Regions from separate parts of the Homo sapiens genome. Here region 1 is linked to region 2. The links come from fine-mapping of genetic effects on gene expression. A gene starts in region 2. The other region holds a variant in brackets. All regions are shown on one strand. Distances are from middle to middle.

The links. PIP is the estimated chance that this variant, and not a neighbour inherited with it, causes the effect. A credible set is the group of variants that fine-mapping cannot tell apart.
Region 1: its variant is the best candidate, but not a certain one, in a credible set for the expression of PDE4B in whole blood (INTERVAL, PIP 0.87).

Annotation. Positions count from the first base shown.
Region 1 is chr1:66,315,873-66,323,872 of GRCh38, forward strand. All of the region lies in intron 7 of PDE4B (phosphodiesterase 4B), which reads left to right. Among named protein-coding and RNA genes, the nearest start is that of SGIP1, 210 kb to the right of the region's middle. The variant T/C (reference allele first, on the strand shown) is at 3,124.
Region 2 is chr1:65,786,756-65,798,429 of GRCh38, forward strand. It overlaps PDE4B (phosphodiesterase 4B), which reads left to right and starts at 6,140. Exons shown (of 17, transcript NM_002600.4): 1 at 6,140-6,493.

The DNA of each region.
Region 1 (8,000 bases), 530 kb after region 2:
TATGGGAACTGTGGAATTCAGAGTTTTCACTGAGGGCTTGGTTCTGAGCCTTGGCCACGTAAACCTCACTCACTCTCCACCCTCCTGTGTTCTTCTGAGGCTGTGTCTGCTGGGTACCAGCTAGAGCCTTCTGTCTGCTGGCTACCTAGCCTATTCAGTTTCAGAAAAATAATTTCTAATCCAAACTACAACTATTTGAAATCCAGTCAGAGTGTAGCAGTAATTCATTCATTCAATAAGTTCAATCAGTGAGTAAATTCAATTTAGTAAATGATTGCTAAATTAAAGCAATCACCCAGCAAGGCTGATTCAACAATCTCAAAATGTCTGCTGTATGTTTCTGCAACGAACTTTGTAGTGTAATCTCTTCATTAAAAGATTAATATTCCCTTGTTTACTACTATTTCAAATAATACAAATTCACATAATTCAAGGAAATCTTCCAAACTAGATAACATGATATTATATGGTAAATGCCAGAAGAACCAGCAAAACAAAAAACAAAAACATCAAACCTTCACTAATGAGAAAACAACCTTTAAAAATTGCCTTAGGCATCTATAATCTAGATTATCCCAGTTTTAAGACTTTGCAGAATCTGTGTCTAGTTGTTATATGTGTGAAGCTGGCAACAAGAGGCCAAAATATCAGAAGTGACATGCAAAACATTTACAGTCCTGTCTGTATGTGTGTGTTCAGGGGGAGATTGATTTAAGCCAATATTTTCTACCTAGCCTGCACATTTATGTTGGCAGGATTTCACTGGTAAATATTGGTCTAAACCAAACACTGAAATCTTTAATCACATTTAAACAGACATTGCATTATACTGCATTAGACACTGCATTAGAAAGGAACCAACAGGGAAAAAGTAAGCACAGCTGATAGCTACAATCTTTCAAGGGTAAAAAGGAAAAATCAGAATTCAGTAAGAGTCTTCAGAGGGAGAAATGCCAAGAAAACCATAGCTGAAATACAAAATTTTGTTTTTCTAAAGTCTGGAGCTGAGTTCAGTTAAGTGACGTAGTTTACAAACCAGGGGAAATTAGGGCCGGAACGGAAGTACTGCTAAATTAGGAGAAATTGGCCAAAGGAAAGTGAGCTAGCTGTGACATACACAGTGTTGGCTTCTTTCTCTCATTCTCAAACAATTCTTGTTTGCTACTGTGTGGAGTTGGGTTGCCATGAAACCTGAGGCCTAATTTTATATTTCATTGGAAGTTCTGAATCTGTCACATAAAGCAACTGTTTGTCTACCCACAGAGGCTGCAAAAATCATAACTGTTAATCTTTCCTAACACACACAGAAAACCCCAACCCAAAAAGAGTTGCTTGGCTTTCTTTGTTCAGTGTCTTCATTCACATCCAGGGGTTCTTACTGAATCATCCAGAACCCCATAAATCACCTCAAGAGCCTGTGAGTCTCCTACTAAAGTGTTCCTTCCTCCATCCCTCACCACCTCTGCTGCACCAAACCCTACCCCGCACACTTCAGACACAGCCCTAGACTGCTTAGATGCTTACTAAGAAAGTCTTTAGGAGGAAGGGCTGTTTTATCTCTGAAATCTATGCTTATCCCTTCTTAATTAAACTGTCAGGCCCCACATTTTGGTGTAGATGATAAGATTTGAGAGAAGCAGGGATCTTGTTGGGATGAATGGTCAGTCCCACTGAAGGGTGCCTCAAAGAAAAACTGTTTTTTTTTTTAAATTTCTTTTCTTTATTATTATTTTTTTAAGTCAGGCCTAGTGCAGTGCCTCACACCTGTAATCCCAATACTGTGGGAGGCCAAGGTGGCAGGCTCACTTGAGCCCAGGAGTTCGAGACCGGCCTGAGCAACACAGCAAGACCCTCATCTCTACAGAAAATTTAAAAATCAGCCAGGCATGGCGGTAAGCACCTGTAGTCCCAGCTACTTTGGAGGCTGATGTAGGAGGATCACTTGGCCTAGGAGTTCGAGGCTGCAGTGAGCCGTGATCACGCCATTGTGCTCCAGCCTGGGTGACAGAGTGAGATCCAGTCTCTAAAAGAATAAAATAAAATAAAATAATTTATCAGCTCTTAGGCAAGATTGAGGAGGTGGGACTCCCAGGAAAAAAAATGTTGAAGGACTCATTGTGGTTATTGCCAAACCTGGCTGAGGATGGAAATCACCTGAAGCAATTCTAAAAAGAACAAATTCCCAGAACTCAGTCTGCCAAGACTGCTTTATACATCTGGGGTTTAGCCTGGGAATCACCCCCAGGAGATTCAGATGCACCTCTTCTATAGACTGGTATAGTGATGAATATCAACTTTGAATTCAGGCTGGATTAGAAACCACGATCTAATATATACTTAGTGTTGTAACTTTGGGCAGATTATGTAACCTCTCTGAGCCTCAGTTTACTCATCTATAAAACAGGGATAATAACTATTTACTGGGGGTGTGGCAAAGATTAATTAAATATTATACATAGTCTCTCACACACTGCCTGACTTATGGTGGGTCAAAAATAAAGTTAAGCCAATCCAAATGTCTCCTTGAGACTCACCCAACTGAGATAGCCCCTAAGGCATTCCTGATCACACTGGAGGCAAACTGCCTCAGTCTGAATCCACTAAGTCTGTGATTCTGGAAAGTTACTGAATATTAGCAAAAAATCATTATTTTTATTACCACCTCTTTTAAGACAAGCAATTATGGTGGAATGAATGCTGGCCTTTGAGTGTTCACGTCCTGGCTATAGACTTATGACCTAGAATAGTGCTTCCCAATAGAAATATAATAAACACTCTACAGGTAATTTAAAATTTTCTAGTAAACACATAAAAAGAAACAGGTGTAATTAATTTTATTAACATATTTTACTTAATATATGCAAAATAGTTAACATGTAATCAAATATATGCATTTATTGAGCAATTTACATCATTTTTTCATACAAAGACTTTGAAATTCAGCATGTATGTTACACTTACAGCACATCTGACCAGAGACTAGCCACAGTTTAAGTACTCAGTAGCCACATGTGACTAGTAGCTACCATATTGATAGCACAGTGTAGACATTCCAGATTCTAAAGCAAGTCATGTCACCTTCATGAGCCTCAATAATCTCATTTGTAAAAATGGAGATAACTT[T/C]AATGGCTTTGTTTGCAGAAGAAAATCAGTAAACTTGAAAGCGCATGTCAACTGGTAAAGACTGTATATAACAGGTTTTCTGCTCTTTACAACACTTAGACTACAAAATACAATGCGATTTTCATAAAGTGATGTATCCAAGGTCGTGTGTGATCTGAGACATCACTCAGGATAGCATCAGGCAGAGACACTCTCCTCTAGGCAGATGAAAGAGATTTTAGCTAGTAGTGTTTCAAGAGGTTGGAAATTTCTTAGTCCTCTTCTCCTCCTCACCCAGCACCTTCACTCTCAACAGCAAACACATTTGCTTCTACTCTTCACTGACTCTTGAAATTCCTTCGACCATTTTCATTCTACAAATAAAGATAAAATTGAGGGATAAATAACCCTTGTGTTCCCTCTGATAACATCTTAATTTGAGGCCTCCTTACTTCTTAAGCTCCTATCTTTTTCTACAAATGATATTCTCTGATGTTAATAATTTACCAAGTGCTTATTCTCTGCACTCTTATAATTTTTATAAAATTCTGCTACCAGAGCAATAGCTCATCTTCTTAAAGATTGTATTGTATATATCAAGAGCACTGAACTTGGAGTCAGAAAGCCTAGATTCAAGTTTCCAGGTTCTACATTTTCTAGTTATGGGATTTGAGGTGAAGCCTGTAGTGACCAGAAGACATGAAAATTCCCTGAGCTTCATCAGGCTTTTCCTCTATAAAATAAAGACAATAATACCTCTCTCGAAAGGTAGATGAGGATTAAAAGAGATAATGCATAAGAAAGTGGTCTATAACTGCAAAGAATTAGACAACTATAAAATGGTATTTAGGGATTTATAAGCCATTTTGTGCATGCTATTCTTCCATTGAGCAGTTTCCAATGGTTCCTTCTTGCCTGCCAAATAAAGTCAGATTCCTTAATCTAACATTAAAAACCTCTCCAAAATTTGGCCCTGACCACACTACTTTTGGAAGTTTATCCTACTCAACCCACTTACTCAAATCAAATGTTCTAACCAACTAGAACTCTCATATTTGTCCTACCCAAACAACACTGAATGGTGTGACCTATTTCTAATTTGGTATATTTCTTAATGCTGTCCATTGCCTTACCTCATTTTCCAACCTCTCAAACTTCCACCCATTCTTCTTTACCAGGCCTCCAAATCTCTCATGATCTCGTTTTCCCTCATGTCCTTGAACTCTATCTCTGCAGCCTCTGAACTTTGCTTGTGTCTTTCTTATGACAGCTATAAAAACCCACGTGGGATTCTAGTAACTCTTGGTGCACAGAGACTTGCAACAAGATGCCTGAATGTGGGTACTCAGTGAGAGTTAAATATCCAAATCTGCAAGTGATTTTGCAGAAGTGCTATTGAGAGGCAAAATGTTTCCCATATAAAAACTAGCCAGCCTAGAAATCTAATCAACACATGAATGCAAAAGAAAGATAGAGCTGATTAGCTGTGGTAACACTGAATAAATCAGTAAAAAGAAGGTGATTTGTTTGGAGACTAGCAAAAAAAGAACAAAGGACAAGTATTGGACATTGTGTCTTTGATACTGTTCAGTAGCAAAGGCCCCTTTCTTTTTGGTAATGCATAGCCCATCTGTTGATATGTTGGGCATGTCTACATTTCAACTAATATTTTCTGAGCTTCTACTAGGTAATAGATGCTTGATGCACAAAAAACTAAAAAAATAGATTCTCTACCCTCAAGAAGGTTAGAATCTAATAGATGAGAAAAACCAAGAGAAATATTTGTAATGAAATATGGTCATTTGGAAATAGAGGTTTGCATATGGTGTTGTGAGATCTTAGAGGAAGGAGGCTTAATCCAACCTCAGAATATTTAGAAAACTTTGTAGAGGAGATGACACTAGGCTGCATCCTAAAAGATAAGGAAGAGCTAGCCAGGTGAACAAAGTTGGGAAAGGCATTTTAGGCAGATAGAAATGCTTGAGCAGAAACAACTATTATACAATCTATCTCAGCAAGGGAGCTGAGTATATCAGGCTTGAGGAAAGGAGCCATTTAAACCATCCAACTAGTTCTCCTGCTCTGATTTCATGCTTACCAAGCCATCTTATGGTTAGAATTTGGCCTCCCACATAGGGAAACATGTGATTACCAGAAGACATAAAAAGCTTTTTATAAATTACTGTTCTCTATTAATTCATTGGACTCTGATTTGCCACTGGGCTCTTGTGAGTTGAACTAGTATAAACTGAATGAACTCAAAATACACTAACAAAATTACATTTCTGGACCTGAAAGGCTGAAGTGACTTGAATTTTGGTCATCAACCAAATTCCACCACCTTAGAGGCCATGTGGTTCTAACTTATGAATGTTTCAAATCCATTTACCTCTCTTCATCTCCATTGCTATTACATGGTTGTAGCTATCATCATCTCCAGCATAGACTGCTGTAATAAAGAAGTCATAATGCCATCTTAGTCCATTCTTGCTTCTATAACAAAATATCTGAGATTAGGTAATTTTCAAAGAGGAGAAATTTGTTTCTCACAGTTCTGGAAGCTGGGAAGTACAAAATCAAGGCATTGGCAGGTTCAGTGTCTGAGGAGAACTGCACTCTCTGCTTCAAGATGGCCCCTTGTTTATGTGAAGGACCTCTTCAAGGAGAACTACAAACCACTGCTCAAAGAAATAAAAGAGGACACAAACAAATGGAAGAACATTCTACGCTCATGGATAGGAAGAATCAATATCGTGAACATGGCCATACTGCCCAAGGTAATTTATAGATTCAGTGCTATTCCCATCAAGCTACCACTGACTTTCTTCACAGAATTGGAAAAAACTACTTTAAAGCTCATATGGAACCAAAAAAGAGCCCGCATGGCCAAGACAATCCTAAGCCAAAAGAACAAAGCTGGAGGCGTTATGCTACCTGACTTCAAACTATACTACAAGGCTACAGTAACCAAAACAACATGGTACTGGTACCAGAACGCAGATATAGACCACTGGAACAGAACAGAGTCCTCAGAAATAACACCACATATCTACAACCTCTGATCTTTGACAAACTTGACAAAAACAAGCAATGGGGTAATGATTCCCTATTTAATAAACGGTGCTGGAAAAACTGGCTAGCCATAAGTAGAAAGCTGAAACTGGATCCCTTCCTTATACCGTATACAAAAATTAACTCAAGATGGATTAAAGACTTAAATGTAAGATCTAACACCATAAAAACCCTAGAAGAAAACCTAGGCATTCAGGACATAGGCATGGGCAAAGACTTCATGACTAAAACACCAAAAGCAATGGCAACAAATGCCAAAATAGACAAATGGGATCTAATTAAACTAAAGAGCTTCTGCACAGCAAAAGAAACTATCATCAGAGTGAACAGGCAACCTACAGATTGGGAGAAAATCTTTGCACTCTACCCATCTGACAAAGGGCTAATATCCGGAATCTACAAAGAACTTAAACAAATTTACAAGAAAAAAACAACTCCATCAAAAAGTGGGCAAAGGATATGAACAGACATTTCTCAAAAGAAGACATTGATGCAGCCAACAGACATGAATAAATGCTCATCATCCCTGGTCATCAGAGAATGCAAATCAAAACCACAATGAGATACCATCTCACGCCAGTTAGAATGGTGATCATTAAAAATCAGGAAACAACACATGCTGGAGAGGATGTGGAGAAATAGGAACGCAAAAAATTCCTGTGTTGAAACCAGTAGGTTTCAACACAGGAATTTTGGGGGGACACATTTAGATCATAACAAATGCTACCAGCAACTAGGATGGATAATTAACTAGGTTACTAGGTAATGTTTTATGTGTTTTGGTATGGTTTACCTCATTTAATCTTCATAACTATCCCACAAGATATGCTTACCCCCATTTTAGAGATGAGGAAATTAAGGCTTAGAGAAATTGAGTAACTCAAATGGCAAAGCCAGATATCAAACTCGTGTATGTCTTCCTGTAGATATGGGGCTCTTGAATACTATTTAGCTAACCTCATATTTCTAGTCTCTAGATTTCATTCTTGCCTTCAAGTTCATTCTCCAAATTGCAGCCAGAGGGATCTTTTTAAAATCCAAATTTGGCTGGGCCACTCCTTTGAAAGAGCTCCACCAAGTTTTCCAGTTGCTTCCAGAATAAAATACAAGATCTTTGCATGGCCTTCCATGGCTGTATATAACTTGATCTAGCTTCTCCTATCAGTCTTTCCCTGTCTGCGTTCATGAGCATACTCTGATGTTCCCCTTGCCTGGAATACTTTCCTCTCCCTTGACACTTAATTCTTATTCCTCAAAATCTCATAACTTTCCAAGGCAGGCCTTCCTTCACATCCCACTTTTCAGATTTTGGGTCCCTGGTTATCCCTATTATAAATGTTTATAGCATTCTACACTTCTTAGTATCTCTGTTCCAAGTTGTACTAAGTTTTTGCATAATTATTTTTCTATTCCTCTTAGGATATAGGCTTCAAGTAAGCAAAACCTAATATTCAGCACTATACCCTTAGAGTTTCATGATGTGCCTACAACATAATAGGCACTCAAAAATTTTACTCATTAATTATTTATCGTATCATATTCAATAAATAATAGCCAACATTCATCTGGTACTTGTAATGTACCATGCACTGTCCTAAGCACTTTACATTTATTTATTTGTTAACCAGATGCTACAGCCCATTAAAATAGATACTATTATTATTCTCATTACACAGATGAGGAAACTGGGGCACAGAGAAGTAACATCTTATGTAACAAAGTTTTATAACAGTAAGTGGTGGTACTGGAATATGAACCAAGGCAGTCTAACCCCAGAGACCAAGCTTTTAATCACTGCTCTATATCCTTCATAAATATTTTGTCAA
Region 2 (11,674 bases):
ATTCTTTATTTCTATGTTTAACCCCTTATAATTTCTTACTTTGTATTTATTTTTTTTATTAATTTAACAATTATTTTAAATATTAAAAAGGCTGGCTTTTCAAATTACACATTAGCTCTAATCACCTTCCTTTCTTAACTCATTTATTAATTCTTCTAAATTGTTTAATATTTTTTAGTTTTCTTCTATTTAATAGTTGTTTTTCTAACTTTTTGAGTTGGTGCATAATTCATGAATTAAGCTTAAGCTGTATCACGGAATTCTATTCAGTAGTGTTTTCATACCTCATTATTTTCAAGAAATCCTACAATTTTTGTTCATAAAGTTATTTAAGAGAGTTTTTTGTTTAGAATTTTCACGTGGAAAGATTTTTATTTTTCTGATTTTTCTATTAATTTCTGTTTTTATGGAATTGTGATCATATAGTGTTGTCCATAATTTCCTATTTTTGCATTTTATCTTTATGGTTTAATAAATGGCAATTTTTATGAATATAATATTAGCCCTTAAAAAGAATATGTAATCTCTACTTTTGAGGCACAAAGTCTGATATATGTAGAGTTTGACTGAGGGAGATGAGTAAAACTGTCCTATTTTTGGTCTGTTACTTTCCATATGTCTTTATATCTCTTGTAATAAAACTTGTATATACAAATTTCTGCTATGTATTTGGTTCATAGATATTTATAAATTTCACATCTTCATTGTGATTTTTACTTTTTCTATCATAAAGTGCTTTTCTTTGTTTTATTTAATACTTGTTTGTCCTGAGTCCAACTTGTCTGAAATTAAAGTCATAAGTACTGCTATATTATTATTATTCCTTTTCCATGTATTTGGGTGGGGGGAATGTGCAGGGGCATTATTTGGGTAAAACTCTGCTCTTCCTTTAATTTTCAACCATCTGAACCTTTTTTTTCCAATGTGTACTTATATATAGCATGGAGTTTTGGTTTTAATGCAATTTGAAAATGCTTTTAAAAAATAGCTTAAAATGTGTATTGATTGAAAAATATTTGTCACAATTCTTTGATATATACATGGATACGTGTGTGATTATACACATGCGCATGAGTTTATGGTTCCTCTGACATTTAACAAGGTGTGCACTAAGGTGCAAATTTGCTCTCCAGCTGCTACCTTTATAATTCCATCTTTATATACTCATATTCTCTATTGTTTTGGATATAACAGTTATGAGCAATGATAAATTGGTATGTATCCTCTTCTTTTTCCTATACTGCATTTTATCAGCTGTCATATTTTGTTTAAAAATTACATTTCTTAGTGTTTATCTTTTTATGTTATGCGTGCTTACTCTACTACTTGTATGTCAGCTTTAAATGACATTTTCAACCTCAACAGTTACAGGTGAGTCAGTCAATGAACTTATTCTAATTACCACCATCTTTTTTCTTTCCCTTCCTAACATTTGTGATTTGTGTCATTTCTATATTTTCAAAACCTATAACATTCAAACATTTTTTGTAGTATTAGTTTTACAGTAAAAATATATTTGGTGTTCACCACCAGTCATTTTGAGAAAGTTTTCCCTTTTTTATTCTAGTATATCCCCTTATGGGAGGAATATTCTTTGAGTTTTAATGTTTAAAAATATGACATTTATATATGATGAATAACTAGCCAGATATAAAATCCTTAGATCATTATTTTTTTTCATGAGAATATAATAAGTTTTGTTTCCATTCTCATTGGAACAAAAGCCCATTGTCATTAGGCTTTGAATGTTGCTTTCAAGAAGACTGAGGGTAGGTTGATTTCTTTTTCTTTCTACAAGAATTGATTTTTTTTTCTTTTCTGCTTCAAAGGTTCCTTACATATATATAAAACTCAATAATTTGTTAGTATATTTCTTTGTTCAACCATCATGAATCATTTTTTTCTACTACATGGTATTTATTTTGAACATGTAGATTGAAGTCTTTTTTTTATCAGTTTCAAGAAAGTTTTTTAAAAATTTTGCTTAAACATTTGCTCTGTTCCACTGATAAGGTTTTCTTCTTTTTTTTTCTGGGTGATTTTTTTTTTGTTTTAAAATTATTATTATACTTTAAGTTTTAGGGTACATGTGCAACATGTGCAGGTTAGTTACATATGTATACATGTGCCATGCTGGTGTGCTGCACCCATTCTTCTTTAGAGACTCCAATTATATGTGTGTTGTATTTCATCTATCATTATCAGTTTCACACAAATACTTTTATTTGCTATGTCTTACTTATCTGCAATACTTAGTCCTTTTTTGTATTTCTTCCAATATTGTCTTCATTTCTGTCATGGTTTGCTTTTCTTCTTCTTTCTGCTAAAAAAATCAACTAATTTCATCCTCCTCATCTCTCTCTTGAGTTTCTTCATTTGTGCCTTTTGGTTTTCCTTAATAGATGATGTTTATTTCTTAACATATCAACAAATATGCTTAATTTAGAGAAACTATGCTGCTTATGAATAAGAGCAAAGACTCTAGAACAAGATTAACTGTGTTTAAATACGGGGTCTTCCTCTAACTGTGTGATCTTGAGTGTTACTTAACTTGTCCCTTAGGTCTTTAAATCTATATAATGGTAATAATAATAACAATATCTAATTTACAGAGTTGTGTTGAGAATCAGTTGAGTTCATATCTCTACAAAGTGGTAAGAATATTGCCTGGCAACAGTAAATACTATGCTAAAGTATTATTAGTTTTTTTCTTGCATTTCGAAATTTATAGTCACAATTTTAATTGTCTCTGTGACAACACTTTTTCCTCTCATCTATTAAAAAGTTTTGATGCTAATTTTCTGAATTTTAAAAATAGTATGTCTGTATCTGTGTTATGCCAGTTTCTTCTTTATCACTGCTCACTATTGAATGAATTATTTTTCTGGTCAAATTCCTTAGAGAAAGTTCCTGAAGTGGAGGTTGCAAAGTGGCTTTCCTGTTCTCAAAACAAATAGCTCCCACTTAATGATCCCCAATAATTGACACCTCCCTCTACCCATGCCCATAAAATACTCCCACATTGACTCTGGACTTAGCTACATGACTTGCTTTAGCCAACGGGACATTAACAAACACAACACATACAGAAGCTTGAAACTTGAAAGTGTGTGAACACTACAGCATGAACACTAGGCTGCCATTTCTCTTGCTACTGGGAACATGTCTACCTCCATGTGAAAAAGCCTGACTAGCTTCCTGGGAAAAGGCCCTAGGTGTCCAAGCCATCCCTTCCAGAGGCCCAGATTTGTGAGTAAGACCTGCTGATACCGCATGGGGCAGAGATTAGCCATTGAGCCCACACAGCTGAGCCCATCCCAATTTTCCATCTCACTAAATTGTAGGCAAATCACTGGTAGCTTTTTAAACCATTGTTTCGGGTGGCTTGTTATGCAGCAATAGATTATGGATTCACTTTTACTGTTGCCTCACAAACAGACTGCTTTTAGTAGTTATGGCATCTTTGTATACTCACTTCCTCTGAGACTCTGAAGGGAATTATGTCCAGAAGATCCTTTTCCAGTAGTTCTCTGCTCCCCAGTTCTTAAAAAGAAGGAACAGGACTTTTACATTTCATAGTGATTTGACCATCTTCAAGCACTAAAGTTTTGCTGACCCTGAGATCTGCTCCTACCATGTTTCTGGGAACTCCCTGTTCTCCTTTTGTCATCTGTATGTATGTATCTCTTTTGCCTTCTTCCTTCTGCTTCTGCTCCAGTTTTTGAGAGACAGCTTTGCATTTTACGACACACCTCTCATTTCCCAGAAAACATACTTTTGCTGGCACTTTCTGATACTTCTAGTGCTGGTTCCCATTGCCTCTCCCTGGGCCTTTTCCATATGACTTCTGCCCAAACTCAGCTGCTTTTGGTAACCTTTAGAAGCGCTTTGGGGTTTGTAGGTAAAATCTATATAAATTTGTTGAAAATGGTGTTTGACAGTTTTTTTCCATTCTCTTTGTTAGTTTATGTAATTTTTAGAAAGAGATGAGAAAGATGCTTAAAAAGCTGACATCATTTTCTACTGGAATCCGTATATAATTCTTTTTGCAGTAAGAACTCTTTGGACACATTTTTCTGAAGATGATGTAATAACCTTGGGAGGCTTAGTAATTATTAATACCTTTCAAATTTCTCATATTCAAAAAGGGGCAGCATGATGCTCAAATTGGTTCTTTTTTTCCCCTAGATTGAACTACAATTTAGATTCCTTACACTCTCTTTAGGCAATGGTTGCCTTATATTTAATACATCTAACTAATCCTAACTGTAGTTCAGAAAAAGAGATTCCATTATCATCATTTTACAGATGAAAACTGTGAGAACAATGACTACATTGCGGATTTTGTTGGCTTCCTTTCAGGTGCTTATTGCCTCACTATTATTAATTTTGGCTTTGGGCTCAATTTCAAGGTTATGGATGAGGTAGATGGTATAGTGTAAGCAACAGGTCCAAAAAGGCAGAATAACCAGCGAACACTTGGTAGCATCTCAGATGTGGGGAAATAGGTGTTTTATACTCCAAACGCTAGTGTTTGAATATGTTTCCTCCAAAACCATGAAGGGGAAAGTTCATTAAGTTCCTACACTGATAAGCTCTTAGACATGCCTTTCAATGTACAGGCATGTAAAGCTATTTTGGGTGAATGGGTGAATAGTAGGTTATTAGGTTATTGCCCTTCTTTGGGAGGTCCCTATTTGTCCTTTAATACACAGTTCAGATGGGATTTAAATTCCCTGACCTGTTCCTTCTCTTACATAGAAAAAATTGCTTCCACTTATGCAATTGGCATGTGCTTCTGTTGTGAAATACTTGTGTTGTTTGTCTCGGGCTTTCATAGTTGGTTCTCCTATTAGGCAGTGAGCTCCTTGGGTGCAGAGACTATGTCCTAATCGACTCTGCATCCTTAGCTTCTGCAAAGTGCTCAGTGCACAGTAGGTGTGCATGATGTTTATTGGAATAAATCGAGAAACAGGCGAATGTTGTCTATTAAAGTCATTTTGGTCTCTAGCTACTGTAGTAGTTGGATAGGCAAAGTTACTTCATGCCTATCTTCCTCCTCTTTTCCTTGCCAGCTTCCTTCTTTTTTTCTCTGACTGAAAGGGCTGGACAACCGGGGAAAAGGAAACTTGTGCTTTCCAGCATACCTCTCCCACTCTACACACACACACACACACACTCTCTCTCTCTCTCTCTCTCTCTCTCTCTCGCTCTCGCTCTCGCTCTCTCTCCATCCTGTTGCATTTTTAAAGCAGGCTCAGTCAGGTTACTGAGTGCCTGTTGCTCCATCACACGAATTCCCAAGTTGTGGGACTCACCTTCAGGGGTGTCTTGGTGGAGCACCTCTTGGGAGGTGATCTGACCTGTTGGTTCAGGAGCACTGCGCGTATTCACTCTGGCGCTCCTTTGTGCAACAGGAGACCAGAGGACTCCCACGGTCCCACTGGCTCCTTCCACGTAATGTGCCCCGCTGGCTCTCTCGCCTCCCCCAACCCGGGGGTCTGCGTCCCCTGCGCCCCAGTCCCTCTTTGTGCAGCCAGTAGCTGCAGAGCTCTTCGTCTTGTATTCATGGCAGATGCACAGCGAGTGACTGACACGTTCCAGGGACGGCGAATGGGAAAGAGCGCGGGCGGCCGGGGGAGGGTGTGTAGTGGCAGACGGCCGCTGGGATTATGAATGGGGGCTGGGGGGCCGGCGAGTGTGGGGTTCAAACCAGGATTTTCGGTCTCTGGCTTTGGATAGGCACGCAGGGCTGTGCGTAATCCTTCAGCTCTGGTGGTAAGGGAGATGCAGTGAGCTCCCGGCTGGGAGAGAGGGTTATTTTGCAAAACTCCCCTGGTACCGTGCCCGCGGAATATTGCAGGAGGTCTGTGAGGTAGGTGGGGGAAAAAATAACCTGGGAGGGCAATCAGGGAGAGGCCAGACGACTGGGGACGGCGTGCTTTGCACCCTAGAATTGACAGGTGGTGGCCTCAGCAGTTACAACCTACTACACAGCATCTCGTCCGTGCGATACGGTCACATTGTTATTCCCCGCACCCGGCTGAGGAGCGCAGCGCGGCAGACCAAGTGGCACCGGCGAGCTGTCTCTCTTCCGGGGGGCGGGGGTGGACAGTAGGGAGAGGGGGTTTAAAGGGCCAGAGGACGAGAGAAGAGCTGAGGGGCGCGTCGCCAGCGCCTGTGTCTCCCTGGCGCGGGTTCCCCAGGCTAGCCCGCTGGCCCGTCCGCGCGCGCGCCCCCGGCCCGCGCGCCCCTTCCCGGGGCTCCTGGCCTCGCCTCAGCGGCTGCAGGCTCTTCGTCGCGGGCCGGGCTGCACGCGAGCGCCCTCCGGGCAGACTTTCGTCCCCCACCCCCGGGAGCGCGGAAGGCTCACTCGCAGCGCATGGTCTACCCGCGCCGGGCGGAGCCCCGGCGTCCAGAGCGCTGCGGCCGCGGCGGTGCAGCAGAGGCGCCTCGGGCAGGAGGAGGGCGGCTTCTGCGAGGGCAGCCTGAGGTAAGGGCTGCCTAGGAGGCTGCGGGTTTATTTTTCCTCATTCTCTTACTTCATCACACACTGAAGCCTCAATGGAGAGTGTAGGGTGCTGTGGGGCTGATGTGGGGCAAAGAGGGAATGGGGCCGCCGGGCCTGGATGGTCGTCTTGACGGCGTCATTGTCGCCCCTTGTAGGAAATCCGCCAACCGGCCCCTAGCCTTTCGCCCTCATCTTCTCTGCTTCGGCTTCCGCCCTTGGACCTCTTGACAAGTCACTGGGGAGGAGAGGATGGAGAGAGGCTAAGGGAGAATGGAGAGAGGCAGAAGGATTCAGGGCTTGGAAGCCCTGGAGTAGGTGACGGATGGGCGCGCGGTGCCCAGTGATTGACTGCAGGCAGCGGGCGCGGAAGGGAACCTGAACTACCCAAGAGTTTGCTGGGCTGAGGCTCCAGGATGCTCCTGCGTGCCCTGGTGGCTGGGGCACCAAGGAGGGGCGCACTCAAGCCTCGGCATCACCAAGGCTCTGCCAGGAACTTTTGGGAAGATTTGTCTGGTGTTTGGTGAGGGGGCTTGGACCTTTCTAGCTACAAGAGTGTGTTGGGGAAGGAAGAGGCTCTCCTCCTTTCTCCTGTCACTTTCCTTCATGCCTACTCTCTTCTTCCATCTTCCTGTTTTGCCTCCTTCCTTCCCGTTTTTCACAGGCCACCTTCCTTGTGCGGTACTTCAAACACAAATCGGAACCCACTATGGCCAACAGCTTTAAAGCGTGTATAAGGAGGAGCGCACAGAAGAATCGCTCTTAATTACAGTAGTTATATATGTGTGTGTGTGTGTCTGTGTGTGTCACACACGTGCCTGGGATAATTTTTAGCAAGACTTTGAGACGGTCACCTAAAATTACATTGTACTTACATTAGGTTTACATCATAATTATATGATGCCACTGAACAGAAATGGTAACTCTATGCATTCTGCATCTTAGATCTGAGATATAACTGTTCTTTGAATCACATGCATCGTTTAATTTCAAAGATTTCCAGCTGCTGGAAAACTCTTGGCTAAGTTATAAGAATGAAAGGCACATTAAGCATAAAAAAAGTAATAAATGTCCAGATACTATTTTTATTAGTAGATCATACTCCCCCTCCGTTTCCTTTTGCCAAAAGCTGTTATTATACCAATTATATTCATAAAAACGAAACAAATTTGGAGATTTCAGTGTTTTTACCTACAACCTGAAGTGTAGGTAGGGGTCTAGAATTTATCTGTACATGAATTCACAAGAAGATAGATAAGGCCAATGATTTCACTGCAGGTAAAGGAAGTTGAGCTTCTTCTCTCTCAGGATACCTCATTTCTTGGTATCCCAAGAGAGAAATCCCCTTAATGTCAATAAATATAGCATTGGTCTCTTCAGCTCTTCAAATCAATACTTGTAGGACTTGACTGTAATATGTTTGCTGGCTGTTTCTATTCTTTTTCATTTTCTAAACAACAACGTGCCAATTTTGTTAATTTACAAAAAATAAGTAAGATTGTTAAATGGACTGGAATTTATGAGATGGCATGATCGATGCATTGAGGCTGTTTATCTATATATCTATCATCTTTCTATTTTTCTTGTTACAGTTGGGAGCTAAACAATGTTGCAGTGTGTCTACTTGTATTTTTATCAGCTGATTTGCTTTTCAGTTTCTTTATGGCTTGACATATTTTGCAAAAATGAATTGTCTTAAATTTCTCTAGAGAGTAACCTGTTAGACATACTGTTTGCTTTCAAAATAGGACTGTTTTTTGATTTGAGGAATAAGAAATCAATCATACATGGTTTTCTGATCTTGGAGTCCTTTGCCTGTCTAGAGACAGGTATTTAAGTATTTAACAGTAATAGTTACTGTGTATGTACAAATAAAGGCTTGTTTGATAAAGATACTGGACACAGAAATAATAATTCCATTTTGGTTTACAAATGCAATATTTAAAATTGTGAAGAAATAAAGAGTTCTAGGTTACTCCTAATATCTTACTTGACTTAATTTGGCTAAGGAGCAAGAGGTATATGAAGAGGTCTTCAGTTAGAAAGATTTGGTGGTTAGTAATTTATTATCATGTCATACAATTTCACCCATTTCTATTTCCAAAAACCTTCAAACAGCATAGTTTGGACAAGGTTTAGGATGTTGCTGACCACAAAACAAATGAGTTCCTTCAGGCACTGGCTATTGTAGCCACCATGTGGTAATACAGTGGACACTGTGATGTGCCAAATCGTTCTTCAAGGAGGGACTTGTTGCCCCAGCTTCTGGGAGTGTGGTCAACAGATGGCCTTCAATAGTCAGACTCTTCAGGGATTGCCTGAGCTGTAGAAAGCTCCCTTGTCCAAGGTCACACCCCTTTCCAGCGCAGCTCACATCCAATGGCTGATCCATGTGGGAGTATAAAGGTTGGGCCATTGCAGCACAACTCTGGAAAACTCTGAAGGATCTTTCTAGCTCTGGAGCTCCCTGAGGGCTTGCATTGCAGCTCTACTTCTCTCTTTGGTCCTTTCTGTTTCCTTCCCCATCCTTCCTCAGGTGTGGATAACAAGGCGGTTCCCAAGAAAATAGGGCTTTGAACTTCATTTCAGAATTAGCTTGCCAGGGAAACCCACCTGTGACTATGTTCTTACCCCATACATTCATTTTGCCAGTTTTAATCCATTGGTCTTTTGAAATGTGGTGTTTCAACCATCAAATATGATATAGAAGATGCATATGTGGAAGGAATTTATAGTTGACAGTTTCTTTTTCTTCCAGCACTTGAAAAATGTTATGTCACTTCATTTCAGGCCTCCCTGGTTTCAATGAGAAATTTGTTGTTGTTTGAATTGACGTTCCCTTATACACAATGCGTCATTTCTCTCTGGAGAGTTTCAAGAATATTTTCTATATCTTCATTTTTTGGAAGTTTGATTATGATGTGTTTTGGCATGAATTTCTTTTGGTTTGCTCTGTTTGGGATTTGATGAAGTTTTTAAAATGTAGGTTTGTCTTTCACCAAGTTGGGAGATTCTTAGGCATTATTTCTTCAAACACAAAAGTGTTTCAGCCCCACTCTCTTTCTTATCTGCTTCTGTGACTCTGATGATATGAAAGTTGGATCTTTTGTTGTTGTCCTACAAGACCCCGAGGCTTGGTTCATCATTTTTTTTTCTGGTATTTTCTCTTTGTTCAAATAGAAAACATTCATTGGTCTGTTTTCAAGTTCGCTGATTCTGTCCTCTGTCTTCTCTACTACAGAGCCCATCTAGTATTTTATTTTGATTACTATATTTTTCAACTCAATAATTTCCATTTGGTTCTTTTTGCAGCTTATGCTTATTTGCTGAGACATTCTATTTTTTCATTAGTTTCTAGAGAATTTGTATTTGCTTGCTGAAACTTTTTTTTTTTTTTTTTTTTTGAGACAGAGTCTCACTCTGTCACCCAGGCTGGAGTGCAGTGGCATGATCTTGGCTCTCTGCAAACTCTGCCTCCTGAGTTCAAGCGATTCTCCTGCCTTAGCTTCCTGAGTACCTGGGACTATAGGTGCGTGCCACCATGCCCAGGTAATTTTTTGTATTTTTAGTGGAGAAGCGGTTTCACCATTTTGGCTAGGATGGTCCCGATCTCCTGACCTCATGATCTGCCTGCCTCAGCCTCCCAAAGTGCTGGGATTACAGGCTTGAGCCACCGTGTCTAGCCTGAAACATTTTTTTTTTTTTTTGAGATGGAGTCTCGCTCTGTTGCCTAGGCTGGAATGCAGTGGCACTATTTCCACTCACTGCAAGCTCCACCTCCCAGGTTCACGCCATTCTCTGGCCTCAGCCTTCTGAGTGGCTGGGATTACAGGTGCCCGCCACCACGCCTGGCTAATTTTTTTGTATTTTTTAGTAGAGACGGGGTTTCACCATGTTAGCCAGGATGGTCTCGATCTTCTGACCTCGTGATCCACCTGCCTCGGCCTCCCAAAGTGCTGGGATTACAGGTGTGAGCCACTGCGCCCGGCCAACATTTTTAGAATAAATGCTTTGTAATCTTTGTCAGATAATTCCAACATCTGATTCACTTAATTGTTGGTGTCACTTGATTGTCTTTTCTCATTCAAGTTGTGGTCATATTTTGGACATTTTAGCTATTGTGTTAGAAGGCTCTGGGTTTCTATTTAAATCTTGTATTTTAACAGATAATCACTCTGTTTAGGGTAACACACAGATCCTGGCCTACTTTTGTGGGCAGTGGTTTCAATGACAATTTAATTTCTAGAGGCTTTGAGGTGCTGTTAGTCTGCCTGGTTTGTCTGGTGCTTCCGGGGCTCCCACTGAACGCTGCTGGTGCCACCTGAAGGGGAAGAAGAAGCCTCCCCAGGCCAGGCCCTGTTGTGCCTCTAGGTTAGAGAAGTGTCTCTAAGTGACTTTCAGCCTTGCAGAAATAAGGAGCATTCTTAGACCTGGAACTTGTGGCAGGATTCCTGGTGCCAGTGCTCTGAGGCCACCTAGTATTGTCAAATGGACCCCAGTTAGATGCAGACAAGGAATGAGCCTACCTAGATCATTTCCTACTACTAGGTTAGGAGTCGGGAGACTCTGGGCCTGGGTAATCTGCTGTTGAATAGAGAGTTGGAAGACATCCACTGCTCTATTGCTCTACTGTTCCTCCAGCCTAGAGGTCACTAAGCAGTCCATTTCCCTCTTGCCACCATTCTCAGTCCTCCTTGGGATGCCCCTTGCATTATTTTTATTTTTTAATTTTAAAAATGTTTAAAAATTTATTTATTTATTTATTTATTTTTTGAGATGGAGTTTCGCTCTGTCACCCAGGCTGGAGTGCAGTGGTGCATCTCGGCTCACTCCAACCTCTGCCTCTCGGGTTCAAGCAATTCTTCTGCCTCAGCCTCCCAAGTAGCTGGGATTACAGGTGTGTAACACCATACCTGGCTAATTTTTGTATTTTTTTTAGTAGAGATGGGGTTTCACCATGTTGGCCAGGCTAGTCTTTTTTTTTTTTTTTTTTTTTTTTTTTTTTTGAGACGGAGTCTCGCTCTGTCGCCCAGGTCGGACTGCGGACTGCAGTGGCGCAATCTCGGCTCACTGCAAGCTCCGCTTCCCGGGTTCACGCCATTCTCCTGCCTCAGCCTCCCGAGTAGCTGGGACTACAGGCGCCCGCCACCGCGCCCGGCTAATTTT